Linked DNA regions of Homo sapiens: regions 2, 3 and 4 are each linked to region 1. The links come from fine-mapping of genetic effects on gene expression. A gene starts in region 1. Each other region holds a variant in brackets. All regions are shown on one strand. Distances are between the middles of the regions. Region 1 holds the start of ALDH8A1 (aldehyde dehydrogenase 8 family member A1). Region 2 overlaps HBS1L (HBS1 like translational GTPase). Region 3 overlaps LOC101928277 (a long non-coding RNA gene). Region 4 has its middle 15 kb from the start of HBS1L.

Region 1 (5,156 bases):
CCAAAGAAAAGGAAATCAGTATACTGAAGAGATACCTGTACCCCCATATTTGTTGAAGCACTATTTACAATAGTCAAGATATGGACTCAACCTAATGTCCATCAACAGCTGAATGGATAAAGAAAATATGGTATATATACACAATGGAATATTATTCAGCCATAAAAAGGAACAAAATCCTGTCATTTGCACCAACACGATTTGAGCTGGAGGATATTACGTTAAGTGAAGTAAGCAAGGCACAAAAATACAAATATTACATGTTCTCACTCATATGTGGAAGCTTAAAAAAGTTGATCTCATGGAGGTAGAGAGTACAATTATGGTTACCAGAGGCTGGGAAGGGTAGAGGAGAGGATAGAGGTTGGCTAATTAATACAAAAATATGGTTAAAAGGAATAAGTTCTAGTAGAGTGACAATAGTTAACAATAATTTATTGTATATTTCACAATAGTTAGAAGAAAAGATTTGGAATGTTCCCAACACCAAGAAATGATAAATGTTTAATGTGATGGAGATCCTAATTACCCTGATTTGATCATGACACATTGTATGCATGTATCAAAATGTCACATATGCCCATAAAGATGTACAATTATTATGTATCAATTTTTTAATTTTTTGTTAAAAAAGGGCTTAATGACTGCAAAGCACAAAGCAAAAGTTGAATAAACGGGAGCCACTGTTAGCAGCACCAGCAACATTTTCCTGAGTGATGTTTTGGAAATTGGACATGCAGTTTGTATGGTAACCATATTTTTCAAGCCGGAAAAAACTATGACTTATGGGATCAGATAGGATATTTGGAAGTTGGATTGCTGAGAAACTGAACATATCTATTACTCTACTAGCTAGCGCATCCATAGCTCATTCTATTTTCTAAAAAGTTATGAGCCATTAGCTGCAGGAAATATTTCAGCTGAATTTGGCATGTTTGTCATTTTTAACTTCACTTTGGCAAACAAGGAAGAGTGGAAAACACAAAGCTGGATTTCCCAGAGCTGTGTTAAGTCATTTGAAGCAAACAAAATTGCAGTTTATAATTTAACCAATGCATTAACCAACATTTGCAAACATTAATCCCTAAGTCTGAAGGTTTACTTTAAATGCAAGACAGATTTGAAGTATTAACAAAAAAGAAAAAAAATAGCAATGTTCTTAAAAAAAAACTTTGCATGGAATATATATTTTTATAGGAAGACTATATTTTAAATAATCTAGTTATTTGTGCCTTAAAAAGAATAAATTATAATTCATAAGGCATTAGATGACTATATATACATCAGCTACATTTACCACTTCAGATATATTTACATTCTCAGTGCAATAATTGATAGCTAATCAAATATATCTCAAATATTTTACAAAATTCTCCAAGTAAAATTAATTCTACATCACCAAAAAAATGTAATGCATATGCCATTAAACACTTTGGATAAGAAAAAAGACGCTGTTAAATCTAACTCCAAAAATATATGGGAATTTGATTTTGAGTTTCATCATTCAAATGATTGATTTTATTTTACTAGGTATTTTGAAGACATGACAAATTATGAGAAGACAATCTAAAACAAAGCCCACAGTTTTTTGCTTGTTTGTTTATTTTAGTAAAGCTATACTTTTTTTTTAATTCCATGGATATAGTGGTAAATTTAAGCAGTGCGTGGTGGAGAAAAGGGAATATTTAACAAAGTGATAGCTCTTACAAATAATACTTTGTACTAGACACTGATTAGGAAATGTTTGAGAATTGCAAAAAAAAACTGCACACAGGGCTGTGTTAGGTTGGCTAGAAAAATGACTTACTTTCTGCATATAGGAAGAGATTTGTTCTAGGTATCATACAGTCCAGTTACAAGGTACATCTTCTGAGAACTAGAATCTTCCTTCTATCATGTTTAACAATCCTACATCTTCCCCCAACTCCCTCTGCTTTTAGAAAACTGTTACCCATAATTGGCCAACATATTAAACACATTTCAGTCTTCTTTAAGTGCATATACTCACCTCGTCTTTTCCACTATTTGGCACTCTGCAATACACTTCCCCTGTTGATGGGTCGTAAGAATCTATATATGAGCTACAAGGTAAAAATTTTCCATCTATGAAGTTTTCCAGCATCAAAAGTGCGTTTGTTCCAGCCATAGCAAGGAAAAATTCTGCCTTTCCTCTTTACGACTGAGCACTCAGGTTGTCCCCACCACTGTCTGGACTCCTGAGTGAGCCTCCCCCTTCCCAGCCCCCATCTTCCCCTTTACCAATCAGTGAATGTGGGAGGGCACCTGACGCTCTCAGAGAGCATTCCAGTCTCCAAACTCAGAACTAAGAGAGTGGCTGAATGTTTCACAGACTTCTAGTACATTACCTGACATGGATAATTGTGTGTAAAAGTAACAGCTACTTACTTATGTGTTCATAGCCCTTTAAATCATCAGAAGGCATCTGTGCATGTGATTTTATTGGGTTCACACCGTAAACTGTTCATTGCTCAAACACTGATTGGATGCCAGGCCCCAAAGCAAGTCCTTTACATGAATTTACTCGTTTATTCCACACAACAATCCTATATGAAGTAACCATTACTTCCTCTCTTTTATAGAAGAAACTGAGCCTTGGAGAGGTTAGACCATTTTTCCAAGGTCACATAGTTAGCAGGGGATGAACTGTAGCCCTTTAATCTCCAAATCATATACTTTTTCCTCAATGCATCACTGCTTACCCTGCAGAGGTAACTGAAGACAGATGCCCTCTTTCCGTGGCTCATCTGTGTTTCTTTACCTTGGCTGCCCTCTCTTGGAAGAGCTGTCTCTCCATCCCAAAACCGGGGCCACAGTGGCTGCTCACATCTTCCTAGATGTGCCATGGAGATAAAGACAAGCCAAAAACATGTGTGACACATATAGCAAGGGCTTCAGATCCCTGATGTAGCTGAGAATTTCTACAAATTGGTAAGAGAAATGAGCACCCCAACAGAAAAGATAAGCAAAGATACAAAAAAGCAATCCATAGGAAAAGGAACACAATTGGCTAATGAATATATTAACAATGTTCAGCCTTGTTGTTAAGCAAGGAATGTGAAATACAGAGGTGGCCTGATTTGCCAATCATACTGGAGAGCATTTTTAAAGATTGAGAACATCTACTCTGTGAGGATGTGGAGAATCATCCCTAGTCCATAGGCGGGAGGGTTCACAGAACACTGCTTGGGGCAATTTGTCAGGGTCTGGTCAATTTCTCTTCTAGGAATCTCTCCTACAGAATTACGTGCTCATGAACAAGTACATAAGTCACAGGACATCCTTTTTTATCATAATTTAAAAATCAAAACAACCTAAAGTCCATCAATTGGAGAATATTAGAGTATAATTGTTATATTCTTAACAGGGAATACTACTTAGACATTAGAAGGATGCATTGTTAAGTGAAAAAATAAAACTAGTGAATAATATATACAGCATAGTTTCTTTGGCTATTTACATGGTTGACAGGAAGCCGTTTTAAACTGCTTGGATATTTTATGGCAAGCCTATATTACTTTTATAATTATGATTTATAGTTATAATTCAGTTGAAGGTTAGGTACCAATATTCTAAAATTCATTGATCACATGAGGGCACTTGCTGGCCGTGCACCTCCTTAGGCCCTCTCTGCTTCCATCTTTATTGGTCTCTAGATATTCTCCAAAATTCTTGCTGAGACTTCTGACAAGCATGGTGTGGCTGATTCTGGGAGGCCCAGAGCAGCTGGAGTCTGGAGCTGGCGCCGTTGCCTGTCGCTGGAGAGTCGCTGACAGGGACTGGAGACAGAAGGTAGTCTCAGGCTTTTTCTGGTGCTGCCCACGGTCAGGTCAGCTGGAAACAGAATGAGAGAAATACGCAGGTCCCAGCCCTGGCACCACAGAGTGAAGTACCAAGAAGTGAGCTTGGTGCTGAGAGACAGTGAGTACCACCCGGTGTGTGCATAAAGACTTCTGTAGCCCATCTTCCTGGGTCTCCAACAACTCTGCCTAATGTTGATGGACTCATCAGAATGTTTGTCTTTTTGTACAGAGTGCAAAAGATTCTAATGGGAGGACTATGGAAGGGAGATCTTTTTGAAGAAAGGACTTTACCCAGGATAGCATGAGAGAGGAATTTTCTGCCACGTGACAGTAGAAGAGGACAGAAGCCGGACACGGTGCTTCTAAAGAGTGCCTGGTGCTGATCAGAACTCCCCACACAAGATCAGTCCCAGTGGCAGAGCAGGCGTGTCTGTCAGTTACAGTGGCCTCCTTGTGCCATTTTCTTGTGCCATTGGCTGCTCAAGCTGGGCCTTCGCTGGTTTTTCTTTTTCTTTTTTTTTTTTTGAGACAGAGTTTCACTCTTGTTGCCCGGGCTGGAGTGCAATGGCATGATCTCAGCTCACAGCAACCTCTGCTTCCTGGGTTCAAGCAATTCTCCTGCCTCAGCCTCCCAAGTAGCTGGGATTACAGGTATGTGCCACCACGCCTGGCTAATTTTGTATTTTTAGTAGAGACGGGGTTTCACCATGTTGGTCAGGCTGTTCTCAAACTCCTGACCTCAAGTGATCCGCCCTCCTCAGCCTCCCAAAGTGCTGGGATTACAGGCGTGAGCCACTGTGCCTGGCCTCGCTGGTTTTTCATAATGTACTTGGCCTTCCCCCACTTCCCCCTGTCAGCCCTTTTCTGTCCACAGTGCAACCATTTGATCCCCACCTGCAGGTCAACCACAGAGATGACTCTGGAATCAGAGCTCAGCTGAGCTGGGAGACTTTCATCCTGGAGGACAGAGCATGGGCCTCATTCAGAGTCTGGTCATGTCAGTTGACCCCAGTCCTGATACCTGAGCTCTGACATGCCTTCAAGGCCTTTTCTCTAAGTTGGCACCAACGTTTCTCCTGTCGGTTTCCCTTGAAGAGACATGAAATCCTATATCTGGGCCTAGTGGCTGAGAACCTACTTCTAGGTAGTTCTACCTGCTTCACTGGACATGTGGGTATCACCTGCTCCTGAATTATTCTGGCTGGCTCCATCTGCTCGCCAGTGTGTCCTGCTGAATGCAGATCTGTTCTTACCACATCCCTGTAACAGCATTCTGACCCATGGGTGAAACGTACTCCCATTTGCGGTCACAGAATCCACCCCCCACCACATCCC
Region 2 (5,156 bases), 90 kb after region 1:
ACTTTTACGTGTGTCAAGTTTCTTTTTTCTATGGAGTAAACAGTGAGTTGGAACTGAAGAATTATGAGATAATCCGTATTTTCCTACTGAGCTAGCAAAATCAAAGGGTTTGCTACTATAATCCAAATGATTTGCTGACTGAGGATAAGAACTTTGAACATTATCAGCTGAAACTTCAGAAGAAGAAAATAAGACTCCTTACCTTACAAGAGCCATTAATTTTCAGATGAATAGGTTGATATACGCAGAAGACAGTCACAGCAACCAAAAGGAAACATGAAATGAGGCATTTAATTACTAAATGCTTCTTTTGATTATGACATGAATAAAGTGATACTTGATCATTACTTAACATGAATACTCTAAAAAACAATAAGGGAGTATTACCTTCCTTTACCAATTTAAAGTAACCTTTATACTCTGTTCACTGATACATACAATGTAAGTCAGTCAATGTTCTAATTTTCACGAATTTAAAAATGTGAGGTCTTAACCATAATTAAATTGTAGTCAGGATTGTCTCAAATTCAAAAACTTCTTTAAAAAAACAAAAAAAACTAGGTTCCTTTTATTCTGTATTTTAATGTATTAGAAACAAATAAGCAAACAACCCCCGGTAATTTCTACCACAATCTGGGATACACTATCAATACAAGATGACATATTACAGACTCATTCCCATCACAGCCAGTTACAAGTGCCCATCTGTGTGCCCAGCATCCCTGGAAAACACACTCTTATTTCATGGTAACAGGCTGTACACAGCTTTGTTGTAGAAAAAATTTAGCCCAGAGGTTACAACAAACACTGACATAGTAAACAAATCGCCATACTCAAACTGAGAGATAGCATGCCAATTAATATAATGCTACCACCTCAGTTCCCCTCTTATGTCCACTGAATTCCAAATTTAACCCCAAATTTTACAAATTTAAAATTAAATCTCTGGCTATAAAATGCAAAGTAGTATAATTATGATACTTATACCTAATTATTTTTAAATAAAACAAAATTATACATAATAAAAGCATAAAGGGATTTTTTTAACATTAATTAGCTGGCTGTCAATTTCCTTTTCCTATCTCATCAGAGTTTAAAAAAATAACAATTAAAAAGTTCTATAAGCTACTAACAAGAAGAAAAAGATGTCTTGTCTTATCTAATTTTATTTCCACTATGTTGTTATAAAATCAACTAGTGAGGCCAGGTACAGTGGCTGACGCCTGCAATCCAAGAACTTTGGGAGGCCAAGGTAGGCGGATCACTTGAGGCCAGGAGTTCAAGAACAGCCTGACCAACATGGTGAAACCCCATCACTACTAAAAATACAAACAAAAAAAAAAGCCAGGCATGGTGGCACGCACCTGTAATCCCAGTTACTTGGGAGGCTGAGGAAGGACAATCACTTGAACCCAGGAGGTGGAGGCTGCTGTGAGCAAAATCATGCCACTGCACTCCAGCCTGGGTGACAGAGTGAGACTCTGTCTCAAAAAACAAACAAAAAAACAAACAAAAACAATCAAGCAGTAAAATAACCACAAAAACAGGCTACAACAGAAGAAACACAGTCATCATCCTAAAAATCCACAACTAGATCAACTGATAATCAAAAGTTAACAATAACATGCAAGATTTTAATAGCTCAAGCAAATTAAATATTTTCTTAAAAGCTCAAGCAAACGAAAGCCTCTCTTTAGGCATTAACTATGTAAAACAAGTGAAAAAGAACAAGTAAAGGCATACCTTTTGCTATCTTTCCTGTAGATACTGTTGCCTCATTCTTGTCCTTCAAACTCTGCACTCTATCTTGTTCCAGAACCCCTGACAAAGCCTTCTGCACATCAAACTTGTTCTTCAGAACTGCTTCAATTAATATTTCATCTGGCACAGCATCTCCAAGTACCTCTCTCATGTGATCAAGGCATGAATAAAGACGAGCTAGAAAAGACGACAATGGTCAAAAGCTATACTAAATGGTGCAATGAAAGAACTTTTAATCTTCAAAACTGATTTTAAAATTTACAGCTGTACTAGAATATTCAACTCTCCCTTCTCTTTGGCAAAAATTATCTCTAATGATCGTATTTTTATCTACAATATACCTATCTTCCCTTATCCAAGGAACGATTTCGTTAATTTAAAAATCACTATAATAAAATGTCTCCTGAATAATAGTGACTAATGTTTCAAAAAAGTGTACATTGCACAGTATACACTAATATCTATTTTCAGTCACCAGTGATGATGGTATCTGCAATGATCATTTTTTGCATGTACAGAAAGGAAGGGGTGAGTGTGGAACTATTTCTAATTTGTTAGTGAATCCAGTTATTCACGAAGTATATTTCTTATATTTCTCAAGCTGCTACCTTAAGTTTCCTTTTTGGCTAACTTCAGTTCTTCCCAGCTAACTAAAATAATCCTTAATGACTCTTTAAAAAACGGCAAGATAACATAATATAAAAATGCCATAAAAATAAGAAAGTCCAGGAGATTAAGGGGAGGATAGGCATTCTTTTTTTTTTTTTTTTTTTTTTTTGAGACAGAGTCTCACTCTGTTGCCCAGGCTGGAATGCCAGTGGCGTGATCTCAGCTCACTGCAACCTCCGTCTCCCTGATTCAAGCAATTCTCCCACCTCAGCCTCCTGAGTAGCTGGGATTATGGACGCCCGCCACCATGCCCGGCTGATTTTTCTATTTTTAGTAGAGATGGGTTTCACCATGTTGTCCAGGCTGGCCTCAAATTCCTGACCTCAGGTTTCCACCTGCCTCGGCCTGCCAAAGTGCTGGGATTACAAGCGTGAGCCACCGTGCCCAGCCGGCATTCACTTTTAAAAGAAAAAAATTTAAGTCTGGAATTATCTAAGCTGTTTATGAATTTTAATTTTCTGATGACATTAGTATTAAAAGTAATTATTAATAATACTTATTAATGATTTAAAATCCATAAGAGCAGAGAGGCTTTGTATCCCTAGAACCCTTTGTATCT[C/T]TAGTACCAGGTAACTAGGGGCCAATGAATAAAAATGAATGATATATTCCCTTATATTTTTGTATAGCACTTGACAATTTTCACAATACTTTTATGTATATTTCTTTTGTAATCCTCATAATAAGTCTATGAGCTAGATATATCAAGCAAATTCTAACTTAATAAAGATAAGATTGAAAATCATGGCACTACTAAGTTAGCAATAATCAAAATAGAATAGAGGTTTTCAAACTCCCTATTCCACAAAACCATTTCACAGAATGCAATTTATATTTAATTGTACATGCTCATATGCTGAACAAGTAATCTACTGGCAATACCCTTTCTTTAAAAAAAAAAGTATTTGATACTTCTTTCATTGGCCCATTAATTATTAAAAATACATTCCTGAAATATTTGGGCAATTCTGCTTTGCTTCAATTTAAGATTAACTTTTAAAGGCTAATAAGCTATGGGATAATATTATCTCTTTGATAAATACATCAATTATTGAAACTGTAACAAAATAGTATAGCTAGCTAGCATCAGGGCCTCCTCTTTTTTATTTATTTATTTATTTATACTTATTTATTTATTTATACTTATAAAAGAAGAAAGCTAAAATATAAATATCTTCATTAAAATGTTTAAGAGAGTTGAAAATATGCAAAAACTCAGAACCGATGTCATTACCAAGTTCTATCTTGAAACTTAATTCACACAGATGTAAATCTTGAAACTTAATTCACACAGATGTAAATCCTGAGGACACTTATACAGTGTCACTTTAGACTTCAACTGGTTTTTTTTGAAACCTCTTGAACTTAACATCTTTGTAAGTAAAGGAGTTTATGTATTCTAATCATAAGCTCCATATACAGCTTATGAAACAATTAAATCATCTGAAAAAGTTCTTCTTAACGAATCACTAGAGTTTCTCTCCCATGGAAAAAAATTTTAAATGGGATAGTTCAATTAAAATTTCAGTTACTAAACAATAGCCATACAATTTTTCAATCATACAGTTAAATACACTCCTCACAAAACATACTTAATAAAACATAAACTGTCCTTGAATATGAAAGATATGTTTACATCATTACTGTTCATAGTCACTGTTATAAACACAATAAAACTGATAAATTCTGGTGTATTTGGTCATTAATCACTTTCAGATAACAGATACACTACTTTTTGCTATACCTTGATCAAATCCACTGAGCTGATGGTTTGAAACAGAATTGGAAGATTCTTTCAGATCTTCATAATCATATTCTTCCACAGGCTCAACGGAAGGTTTGTCACGCCGTGAATAAATAAACTGAGCAGCTAGAATATAAAATGATCAAAGAATGCTATGGTATAGCCATTTCCTATTAACTTTTTTTTACAAAAGTTAAAGTAAAAATTAAAAATTCTAATCAATCACCTATAGTTACCCATATTTCATAAGGGATGAAAACAAAAACAATATCATATCAAAACATATACCTAAAATCCTACTCGAAGGTGCTTACAATTTATTATTCTCTTATAATCTTCTTCCTTCTTTCCCCCAATCTCTGAAACCATTCCACTCAGCCTACTTTCTCCCTGGTTTCCAAAATCTACCTTTCCTAATATCTCTTCTTTGTATACTATTCTGTGTTCCCTGAAATTTTCTCTTCAATACAAATATTTCAAACCAAATATCAAACTTCTAATTTACATAATTAAGAAAACACAAGGTGGCCAAGCGCAGTGGCTCACCCCTGCAATCCCAGCACTTTGGGAGGCCAAGGCGGGTAGATCACCTGAGGTCAGGAGTTCGAGACCAGCCTGGCAAATACAGTGAAACCCCATCTCTACTAAAAATATAAAAATTAGCTGGGCGTGGCAGTGGGCACCTGTAATCCCAGCTACTCAGGAGGCTGAGGCAGGCAGGGGAACCGTTTGAACCCAGGAGGCGGAGGTTGCAGTGAGCCGAGATCACGCCATTGCACTCCAGCCTGGGTGACAAGAACAAAACTCCGTCTCAAAAAAAAAAAACAAAAAAAAAAAACAGAAAAGAAAACACATGAAGTGCTAATTTTGCCTGAATCTAAGAGTTCACGGAAAATACAGACTTTAATCTTTAAACAACTCATGCTTTCAATCACACACTTTCAATTATACACTGACACTGTAAACTAGTGTCATATACCTAACT
Region 3 (5,156 bases), 120 kb before region 1:
CAGTCTTCATGATCTCTGACATAGAGATTCAGCCTCAAGGGGAAGGTAAGATGATGAAGTCAAGAGTGTCTGGAGGTCACCTGTAGTGAGCCGCTTGGAGAAATATTTTATATTATTGAGCTGTCAGATTTTTTAAATCTGCAGCCAACATTTCAGGTTGCTGATGAGAGTCCACATATATTTAGTGTAAAAGGCTTTGCAATAGGAGTCAGAAAATCTGACTCTGGCTCTGCCACTGATTAAATTCTCCAATTTCCAGTCTGTGGTGTCTTCCAGAACTAATATCCTACAATTATTCATAAATCAAGCTGCATATTGTGATGAAGGATGCTGGCAAAAGACAGGCCCATATGGGCGCGTATAATCCCCCTAAAGTCAATTATTAATGAAGTCTTCAGCTGGCAGATGCTGTAGGCAAGGACTGGTCTGGTGCCAACAATGTGATCTTCTGTTCCCATTTACAAATCAAGGCTATTGTAATCAATAAAGCCTTGTTAAACATTACTAAGGGAGTGGGCAAATGGTGCAGAGTTAATAACCTCTTACACATGCTATTGTGTTTTTTTCTTGATCCAAAATGTCCTCTTCTCTCTCTGCTGAATCTTTTTTCTGCTGCAATAGATGCTTGCACTAAACATACTCTAATTCAGTTACCTCTAATATTAGGCATTATTTATTTATCATTTATGCTACAATTCAGAGAAAGCCATTTCACACTGATGCCTGGAACTGGCCCCAGTTTTGTTGCTAGAATAATAATTAGGGGTTTAGCCAGCTTAAGTGAATTGGAAAGCTTTTGATATTTTAGAGAAGACCAAGAAATGTTAACTAAATTATTTATTGTCTCATGGTGAAAGCTACTCATTGAACAACTATATGATGCATTTTGGTATTTGTTTGAGTTAGAAAAATCATTGTCCATGGCCAGGCGCGGTGGCTCACGCCTGTAATCCCAGCATTTTGGGAGGCCAAGGCAGGCAGATCACTTGAGGTCAGGAGTTCAAGACTAGCCTGGCCAACATGGGGAAACCCTGTGTCTACTAAAAATACAAAAAGTAGCTAGGCATGGTGGTGCGCCACTGCAATCCCAGCTAGTTGGGAGGCTGAGGCGGGAGAATTGCTTGAACCTGGGAGGCGGAGGTTGCAGTGAGCGAGATCGTGCCACCGCACTCCAGCCTGGCAACAAAGCGAGACTCTGCCTCAAAAAACAAAAAAAAGTAAAAAAGAAAAATCATTGTCCACTAATGGTACAAAAAATTTAGATTGGGGCTGGACACGGTGGCTCACACCTGTAATCCCACCACTTTGGGAGGCTGAGGCAGGTGAATCATTTGAGGTCAGAAGTTTGAGACCAGCCTGGCCAACATGGCAAAACCTCATCTCCACTAAAAATACAAAAATTAGCTGGGCGTGGTGATGCGTGCCTGTAATCCCAGCTACTCAGGAGGCTGAGGCAGGAGAATTGCTTGAACCCAGGAGACAGAGGCTGCAGTGAGCCAAGATCGTACCACCGTCCTCCAGCCTGGGCGACAGAGTGAGACTTTGTCTCAAAAAAAAACAAAACAAAACAATTCTCTAGATTGATGTTCTGTATTCAGTTGAAAAAGTGGAGGATGAATTTGGACCAGACTGCCCAGTGGAATCTCGCTCATCGGGACTCCACTATCTGAATATCTGATTACTTTGATTTTTGAAGATGCAACATTAACTTTGTACTTTCATGCAGAAAGTGCCTTGGTAATGCTAGAAACAGCTAACCCATACACAGAGCTTGCTTGTGCCTTCCCCCATCTAACATCTTTACATACACTAACCTGCTTAATCCTTACAACAACCTTAAGAGACACATGCTACTAACACTTCCAGTTTACACATGGGAAAATTGAGAAGGTAACAATATTGTCTCATAAACGGTAAACCCAGGCAGCCTCATTCCAGGATCCCAGAACTTAGCCCATTTGTCCCTAATGTACATTTGCATTTTGTTTTTGTAGAGAGCCTGTCATAGGCTGAAACTTCACTTATTTAGAAACAGAGAATTCGTGTTTTCTAACAGCACCAGAGGATCTTGGCGTTGATAGGATCCACAGAGACGTTCGGTCCAATCCCTGCCACATCCCCTCAAGGGGAGCAGCCATCTTCCCTGTCCTCAACCTAGGAACAGGGACTCACTACATACATCCTGTAGCACTCTTCTCCCATCTCAGAGAGCTGGGACCATTGGAAATGGCTTTCTTTCCTTAAGCTGAAATGGGCTTTTTCTTTTTCATTTTTCTTAGAGACAGGATCTCACTGTCACCCAGGCTGGAGTGCAGTGGCCAATCTTGGCTCACTGCAGCCTTGAACTCTTGGGCTCAAGCAATCCTCTTACCCCAGCCTCCCAAGTAGCTGGGATTACTATGCCAGCTAATTTGTAAGATTTTTGTAAAGATAGGGATCTCATGATGGCTGGTCTCAAACATCTAAACTCAAGGGATTCTCCCACCTCGGCCTTGCCTAATGATGGGATTACAGGCATAAGCCACGGCCCCCAGCCTGAAATATATTTGCTATAATTTTACCTGCTGGCCAGAATTTTGCTCTTGAAGCCACATGAAGACATGGACTCTGTCTTCCTCTTAACACCCTTCAAACATCTGGAAGAGTAATTATGCACCATCCTGAATCATATTTTTCCTGGCTCATCACTCAAATGCCCCTGTTTCAAGATCCAATGATTCTGATTGCTCCTCACTGGGTGAACTTTGGGGAAAATTTCACTTGAAATGCAGGACCTGGAGACAAAGATAGTGTCAGAGGCCTCAAGGATTGCTCCACAACTGTGGACCCTTCTCTGGTGCTGACCTAGACCTAAAAGCCTTCTGCAGGACTCGTGGCCATGCCACACTGCTAACTCACAGCCAACTAGTCACCCACCCCTGCTCCAGGGGACTTTTTTTCATATTAAATGTTTATTAAATCAAATCTACCCCATTATATGTGTATTTTTAGTTATCCTTTTTTTTTTTTTTTTTTTTTTTTGAGACGGAGTTTCACTCTTGTTGCCCAGTCTGGAGTGTAATGGTGCCATCTCAGCTCACTGCAACCTCTGCCTCCCGGGTTCAAGTGATTCTACAGCTTCAGCCTCTCGAGTAGATGGGATTACAGGTGACTGCCACCACACATGGCTAATTTTTGTGTTTTTAGTGGAGACGGGAGTTTCACCATGTTGGCCAGGCTGGTCTCGGAGCTCCTGACCTCAGGTGATCCACCCACCTGG[G/A]CCTCTCAAAGTGCTGGGATTACAGGCATGAGTCACTGCACCCGGCCTAGTTATCCTTTTAAGCACAGTGTAGGATTTAATATTTATCACTAACGGAGGGATCCCTCCTCAAGTCCACAGAGAGAAAGGGGGAGGGAGGGTGGGTTAGGGGAGGGAGGGAGGAAGAGAAAAACAGAGATTACTGTGCACTCATTTCACCCCAGGAGACTTTTCTAGGTACAGTAAAGAAATTCAAAGGACCTTTAATTAGCTCACAGATATAGTGAGTTATTTCATAAGGGAAAAACAAAAACATAAGACGATATTTGCAGAGAGCTAAGCTGGACCCTAAAATAAAGGTAACTAAAGCTAAAGCTCTAACAACTTTCAGAGCCCGGGGGTATTTTCCTAGACCGTTTCCCTTGTGGAAAAGCAATCAAATAGATGCTATAATTTTAGACATTTTTTGAAACAGGAGTCAGCCTGAACGTCATAGATGCCAACCTGAAGTTTGTGGTATGTGGGTCATTGTTTTGTCACATGTGACACGGTTTCCACGCACAACAGGTTGAATTTAGAAAAACTTGTTAATAGACTAGCAGTCAAAGCCAGAAGCAAGTCTGAAAGCTAGGCTGATAGAAAATAAAATATCCCTTGATGACATCGGCAGAACCAATAAACACACGACCTCAAAAGTAAGGAAATGATTGTTCATAGTTTTAGACACTAGTTCTCTATGTTGCATAAGCTGTGTTTAAATAATTCATAGCAACACAATCAAGATCCCACATGCAAACTACAATAATTCTGTGTGTACGTACCAAAGGGGTTTAAAATATTAGTATGTTTGGAGATGTTTTTCATTTTCCTCCCATTTTCATAGTCTTCAAAATCACACAACAGATTTTGAGTTTAAAAATCAACAGGGAAAAATGGAACACTGATTTAAAATAATAAGAAAAAAATGGCCTAACATTTAGAACAACAGCTTCTCCCCCTATCTGTTGCAAGGTGGAACTAATTGGCTTGTTACAAAGCGGGGAGCTGACTTTAAATTATAATGTAAGGAAATGGTCATTACTAGATGTTTTGAAACTTAGTGAGACAATATAAAATGCAAAAGCAACATCATAGAAAAGACCTTACTATTGTGTTGACTGATAAGAATCAAAAGCAATAGACCTAGGATGCCTGAAACACCCACTATCCCCAAGTGAGAGGGAAACTGAGTCAAATAACACTTTCCAAGGAGGTGGAGGAATTATAATGAGGACGTATTCTTTTCTGACACTTTCTTATCTTTCTTCAAGGGCATTTTGTACAGGGAGTTACTAAAGCTTGACATTCTCTGGCCATAATAATGGGAGGAACAAGAGCAGGACCCCTGGTGAGCTGAAAATCAGGAAGGAGTTGTAGGGAGAAGAGTGGCCAGTTTTTCCAGGTGTCCCATGATGATATTGACTAAGACATCAATCTCCTTGGCAAAGATGGATAACCTCTGTTTTCTGTCTCCCTAGGGCACAAAGACATCCATATTGACACTGTAACATTGGCCATGGGAATAAAAGAAAGAAAATGAGATTAGTACTTAACACACATGATTTATTTTAATCAATTTTAATACAGTTCCCATAAATACAAGTAGAAAAAAGGAAAACTGTCTTGTTATTATTTAGAGAATTTAATGATGGTTGCAGGGGAAAGGTCATACTGAAAATTCAAAGTATCTAACAAAAAGATATAAGCAGAAGATTTTTTCCAAGACTAGTCTGTCCATGGGCAGTAAAATACATATATCAGAAAAAGAAAAACATGGATGTGCTTGTGCTTTGTAGGTAAGTCACCCAGCTTTCTGTCTTTTCTTGTTCTATCTATGCTTTCTTCAATTTCTATGCCTACTAACTCCACGAGGGTGTGA
Region 4 (5,156 bases), 120 kb after region 1:
AAAACTGGGCGGACCTATGACTGCATTGGAAGCCACATTACGTACCTGCTAAAGCTGGCCATAAAAGGTGATACGGCTTTCACTTGGTCCTCTTTGGATGCTCACCCTCAGAACCCAGTCGCCATAATACGAGGAAGGCAAACAGCAATTTGGAAAGGCCATATGTAGGTGCCCAGTAGTGCCTTTGCTGAGATTCCAGATGACAACCGGCCTTCATGACCAGACATGTATGTGAATGAGGCTTCAGATTATCCCAGTGTCCAGCCTTCCAGATACCCCAGCAGATGCTGAGTGGAATAGAGATCATCTGTCCTCACTGATTCTACCCAAGTTGCAGAATTGTGAACAAATATAAATGTTTATTTTAAGCCACTAAGTTTTGGGGTTGTTGTTTAGCAATAGATAACCAGAATAATTATCAACCCAAAAAACATCTCACAGAGACAGTAGTAAATACCGCCATGTTACATGTCTATAGACTCTCATAATTCACAAAAATGCTAATGATAGTTATATAAAGTTAATTATAAGTACTATTGATTCGGATTATTTATATGACAAAGAATACAAGTTTAGAGAGTCTGCTTTAAGTGAGATTTTCTTTGGTCACTAGTCACAATTCTGAAAACTGCCTCCTACGTATACCATAAATAATCATAAAAGATCTTTTTATTCTACCCCATTGAAATGTTACACTAAAACGAATCAAGAAAGCTAGTGTAACAAGGACTTGATTTTCTGTGTGGAAAATTTATGTTATGAAATTCTGTAGTCTCCATTCTTTCACTTGTTACCCAACATATTAATTGCCTGAGAAGTTTTAAGGAACAAATACTTTATTCAAAGGTTGATGCCCTTCAAAAAAATGACAGCTGAACAAGGAAACTTTTGATAAAATATCATCTTCCCAAGTAATATTAATGTAGGTCATTTATTATTATTATTTTTAATTACTACAGTGTTGGCCAGGCACGGTGGCTCACGCCTGTAATCCCAGCACTTTGGGAGGCTGAGGCGGATGGATCATGAGTTCAGGAGTTCGAAACCAGCCTGGCCAACATGGTGAAACCCGCTCTCTACTAAAGATACAAAAAATTAGCCTGGCATGGTGGCACGTGCCTGTAATCCCAGCTACCCAGGAGGCTGAGGCAGGAGAATTGCTTGAACCCAGGAGGCAGTGGTTGCTGTGAACTTAGATCGCAGCATTGCACTCCAGCCTGGGCAACAGGGTGAAACTCTGTCTCAAAAAAAAAATTATGGCCGGGTGTGGTGGCTCACGCCTGTAATCCCAGCACTTTGGGGGGCTAAGGCAGGCAGATCACGAGGTCAAGAGTTCGAGACCAGCCTGGCCAACATAGTGAAACCCTGTCTCTACTAAAAATACAAAAAATTAGCTGAGTGAGGTATAGGGCACCTGTAATCCCAGCTACTTGGGAGGTTGAGGCAGGAGAATCGCTTGAACCCAGGAGGCAGAGGTTGCAGTGAGCCGAGATCGTGCCATTATACTCCAGTCCAGGCGACAGTGCGAGACTCCGTCAAAAAAAAAAAATTACTACAGGGATATTAAATTTCACTTGCACTGATAATTGATTCAGATGTGTCCCAAGGACAGTTTATTCCTTAAGTCATGCTTTTATTAGTGAATGAAAAAGAGGACAGGAAATTAAGCAGCATGCAATGAAGTACACTGTCATGTTATTAGGATACTCCTAATCCATTAAACACAGAAAATTCTCTATAAAGATATTTTTAAACCTTCAGTAAAATGCTTAAGAATTAATTATTCCATTCCAAGAGTTTTAGGCCAGACAAAAGCTGAGATAATTTTGTTCCTATACTCAGACATACTAGTGTACATAAATCTGTCTTAATATATAGGTCATTATTGCTTTCTCCACTAGTCATAGCCTATTGACAGACAATGAAAAAGAAGAAAAAACAATAAACAGCTTTAGAGGAAAAATATACTAGAAATTTTTTTAAAATCACAATTTGTTTAACGAGACCAATAAGAAGAGCCAAACATAGACTGGCCTTTATATTGGCCCCTCTTTCTTCTTCTCAGCCCTGGACCTAGGAGTATTGGCTTGATGAATTCTGAACTCCTTGTATAGAGCTGTTGCCTTGTGATTTACTCATTCTACTTAGGGAAAAGAACCTTTCAGGGGCACACTGATGTTTAGGGAGGAAGTGTCCCACAAGGAGAGAGATTTTTAAATTCTTTATGTGCCTTAATATAGGCACTCTAGAATAAGGGGTAAATCAGGAATTCGGAAATAACCTGTATCATGGTAAGCCTATTAGTAGGACTGATTTCTGGTATCCTTCATGTCATGGCAAATTTCCAGTATTTAGCATGTCTCTCAAAGAACCTAAGAAGAGTACTTCATTTACCAATAGAAGCAGTGGCTGCAGAAAACTTTGTCATGAAGAAATGCATGGGAAGGCTCCTTTGTTTTGCCTCCTATCAAAAAGCAACTTGGTGCAAGGCAAAGAATATCTATCTATAATTTAGGAACGCTTCAGGTTAGCAATCAACTAACTGTGTCAAGGCAACTCACTTTGCCAGCCTCTGTTTGTTTGTTTGTTTGCTTTTAAACAGGTTTTACCACAGGACCTCTAAGTTTCTTTCCGGTTTAATTTTTTTTTTTTTTTTTTTTTGAGTCGGAATCTCACTTTGTTGCCCAGGCTGGAATGCAGTGGTGTGATCTTGGCTTACTACAACCTCCGCCTCCCAGGTTCAAGGGATTCTCCTGCCTCAGTCTCCCAAGTAGCAGGGACTACAGGCATGCGCCACCATGTCCGGCTAATTTTTGTATTTTTAGTAGAGACAGGTTTCACTATGTTGACCAGGCTGGTCGCGAACCCCTGACCTCAAGTGATCTGCCCACCTTGGCCTCCCAAAGTGCTGGGATTACAGGCATGAGCCACCGTGCCTGGCCTCCAGTTTAAAATGTAAATGATACTTGAATCACAGCATTTATAGCGTCTATCATTTTTGAATGTAAAAGCAGAAA[A/G]CACACTAAGTCTTGGTGTGTGCTTAGGTTCTTAGAAAGTCTGGAAATACGAGCAAATTTCTAGTTCTCATTTTTTTTTTTTTTTTTTTTTTTGAGACAGGGTCTTGCTCTGTCTCCCAGGCTGGAGTGTGGTGGTGCAATCCTGGCTCACTGCAACCTCCACCTCCTGGGCTCAAGCAACCTTCCCACCTCAGCCTCCTGAGTATCTGGGACTACAGGCACACAGCACCACACCCAGATAATTTTTGTTTTTTTGTTTTTTGTTTTGTAGAGATGGGGTTTTGCTACGGTGCCCATGGCTGGTCTCAAATTTCTGCACTTAAGCGATCCACCCGCTTAGGCCTCCCAAAGTGCTGAAATTACAGGTGTCAGCCACTATACCCAGCCTCTAGCTTTAATTCTTAAAGATACATAATCCTTCCAAGGCCGACAAAATGCTTGCATCACCTCTTTATAAGGAAATTTTTATAGATTGCAGCAAATAATAAACTATATCATACATTCTGATTTCCACGTGTAAAAAGGTGTTTGAAACATTTATCTTCATATTTATTTTAATAATTATTTTAGAATTGAAAATGTTGCCCATTTTTCTCTGTCTTTTACTATATATTATACAAATGAAATGTAAAGGACAACACAGTATCCGTTTCAAAGTTGTTTATAAGCAATATGTTCAAATTTGGACATTAGATAAAATGCAACAGTTATTTTAAATAACTATCTTAGTCCACTTTCTGTTGCTATAACAGAATACCATAGACTGGGCAATTTATAAACAAAATAAGTTTATTTAGCTCATGGTTCTAGAGACTAGGAAGTCCAAGAGCATAGCACCAGCATTTGGCGAGGGCCCTCTTGCTGCATCATAACATGACAGAGGACATCGCTTGGTAAGAGGGCAAGAGCAAGAGAGCCAGAGAGCTCACTTGTATAAGAAACCCACTCCCATGATAGTGACATTAATTCATTAATCCATTCATGAAGAGAGAAATTAGATTTCCAACACATGAACTTTTGGGGGATACATTCAAACCATAGCCATAGCCAAATAAATGTTAAAGGTGAAATAAATGTGTACTGGAAAATGGATGAAAGGAAATGTTATAGATTGAGTTTGTCACCCAAAAATTCATGTTAAAATCCTAATCCCCAGTGTGATGGCATTAGAAAGTGGAGCCTTTGGAAAGTAATTAATTCATTTGTTTGGAGCCCTCATAAATGGGATTAATATCATTACCAAAGAGATCCCAGACAGCTCTCTGGCCCTCTTTCTGACATATGAAGACACAGAGAGATGAACTAGGAAGTGAGCCCTCATGAGACACCAAATCTGCTGGCATCATGATATTGTTCTCCTTCAGCCTTCACAACTATGAGAAATAAATGCCTGTTGTTTAGGTCATCCAGTCTGTGGTATTTTTGTTTTAGCAACCCAAGTGGACTAAGATGGAGAACCATGAGAATCAGATGGTTACACACAGTGGCATGAAGACTGACAGTTAAGGACCAAGATGATGTAAGATGATGAATACCATGTTATAGAAAAAAACATTGAATATCTTGGAGCTAATTATATTAGAGAGTAGAAGGCTAAAGGATGACGTGACTGCTATCATCAAATAGCAGTCTAAGCCATCACGTAGCAATTCTAAGAACTATTCTATAGATTTTAGAATAACTTTATTTTGTGTTGTCCTAGAAGAGTGGGATTTATAAAGACAAAAGTCTCAGTTGAATTTGAGGGAAATGCACACAAAGCTTTTTGTTTGTTTGTTTTTGAGACGGAGTCTCGCTCTGTCGCCCAGGCTGCAGTGCAGTGGCGCGATCTTGGCTCACTGCAAGCTCCGCCTCCCGGGTTCACGCCATTCTCCTGCCTCAGGCTCCCAAGTAGCTGGGACTACAGGCGCCCGCCACCACGCCCGGCTATTTTTTTGTATTTTTTAGTAGAGACGGGGTTTCACTGTGTTAGCCAGGATGGTCTCGCTCTCCTCACCTCTTGATCCACCTGCCTCGGCCTCCCAAAGTGCTGGGATTAGAGGCCTGAGCCACCGCGCCCGGCATACAGAAAGCTTTTCAGCAATGGAATGAAGTGTCTCAATGAATTTCCCATTATGAGAAGCATCCTGTTGAGAAAAT

The links. PIP is the estimated chance that this variant, and not a neighbour inherited with it, causes the effect.
Region 2: its variant is the best candidate, but not a certain one, in a credible set for the expression of ALDH8A1 in whole blood (INTERVAL, PIP 0.90).
Region 3: its variant is the best candidate, but not a certain one, in a credible set for the expression of ALDH8A1 in lung (TOPMed, PIP 0.79).
Region 4: its variant is the best candidate, but not a certain one, in a credible set for the expression of ALDH8A1 in tibial artery (GTEx, PIP 0.81).

What each region holds. Positions count from the first base shown.
Region 1 is chr6:134,947,908-134,953,063 of GRCh38, forward strand. ALDH8A1 (aldehyde dehydrogenase 8 family member A1) reads right to left here and starts at 2,194. Exons shown (of 7, transcript NM_022568.4): 1 at 2,009-2,194. The coding sequence starts at 2,146.
Region 2 is chr6:135,037,830-135,042,985 of GRCh38, forward strand. It overlaps HBS1L (HBS1 like translational GTPase), which reads right to left. Exons shown (of 18, transcript NM_006620.4): 3 at 4,172-4,297; 4 at 1,744-1,938. Among named protein-coding and RNA genes, the nearest start is that of HBS1L, 14 kb to the right of the region's middle. The variant C/T (reference allele first, on the strand shown) is at 2,990.
Region 3 is chr6:134,830,675-134,835,830 of GRCh38, forward strand. All of the region lies in intron 2 of LOC101928277 (a long non-coding RNA gene), which reads right to left. Among named protein-coding and RNA genes, the nearest start is that of ALDH8A1, 120 kb to the right of the region's middle. The variant G/A (reference allele first, on the strand shown) is at 3,260.
Region 4 is chr6:135,067,340-135,072,495 of GRCh38, forward strand. No RefSeq gene overlaps it. Among named protein-coding and RNA genes, the nearest start is that of HBS1L, 15 kb to the left of the region's middle. The variant A/G (reference allele first, on the strand shown) is at 3,018.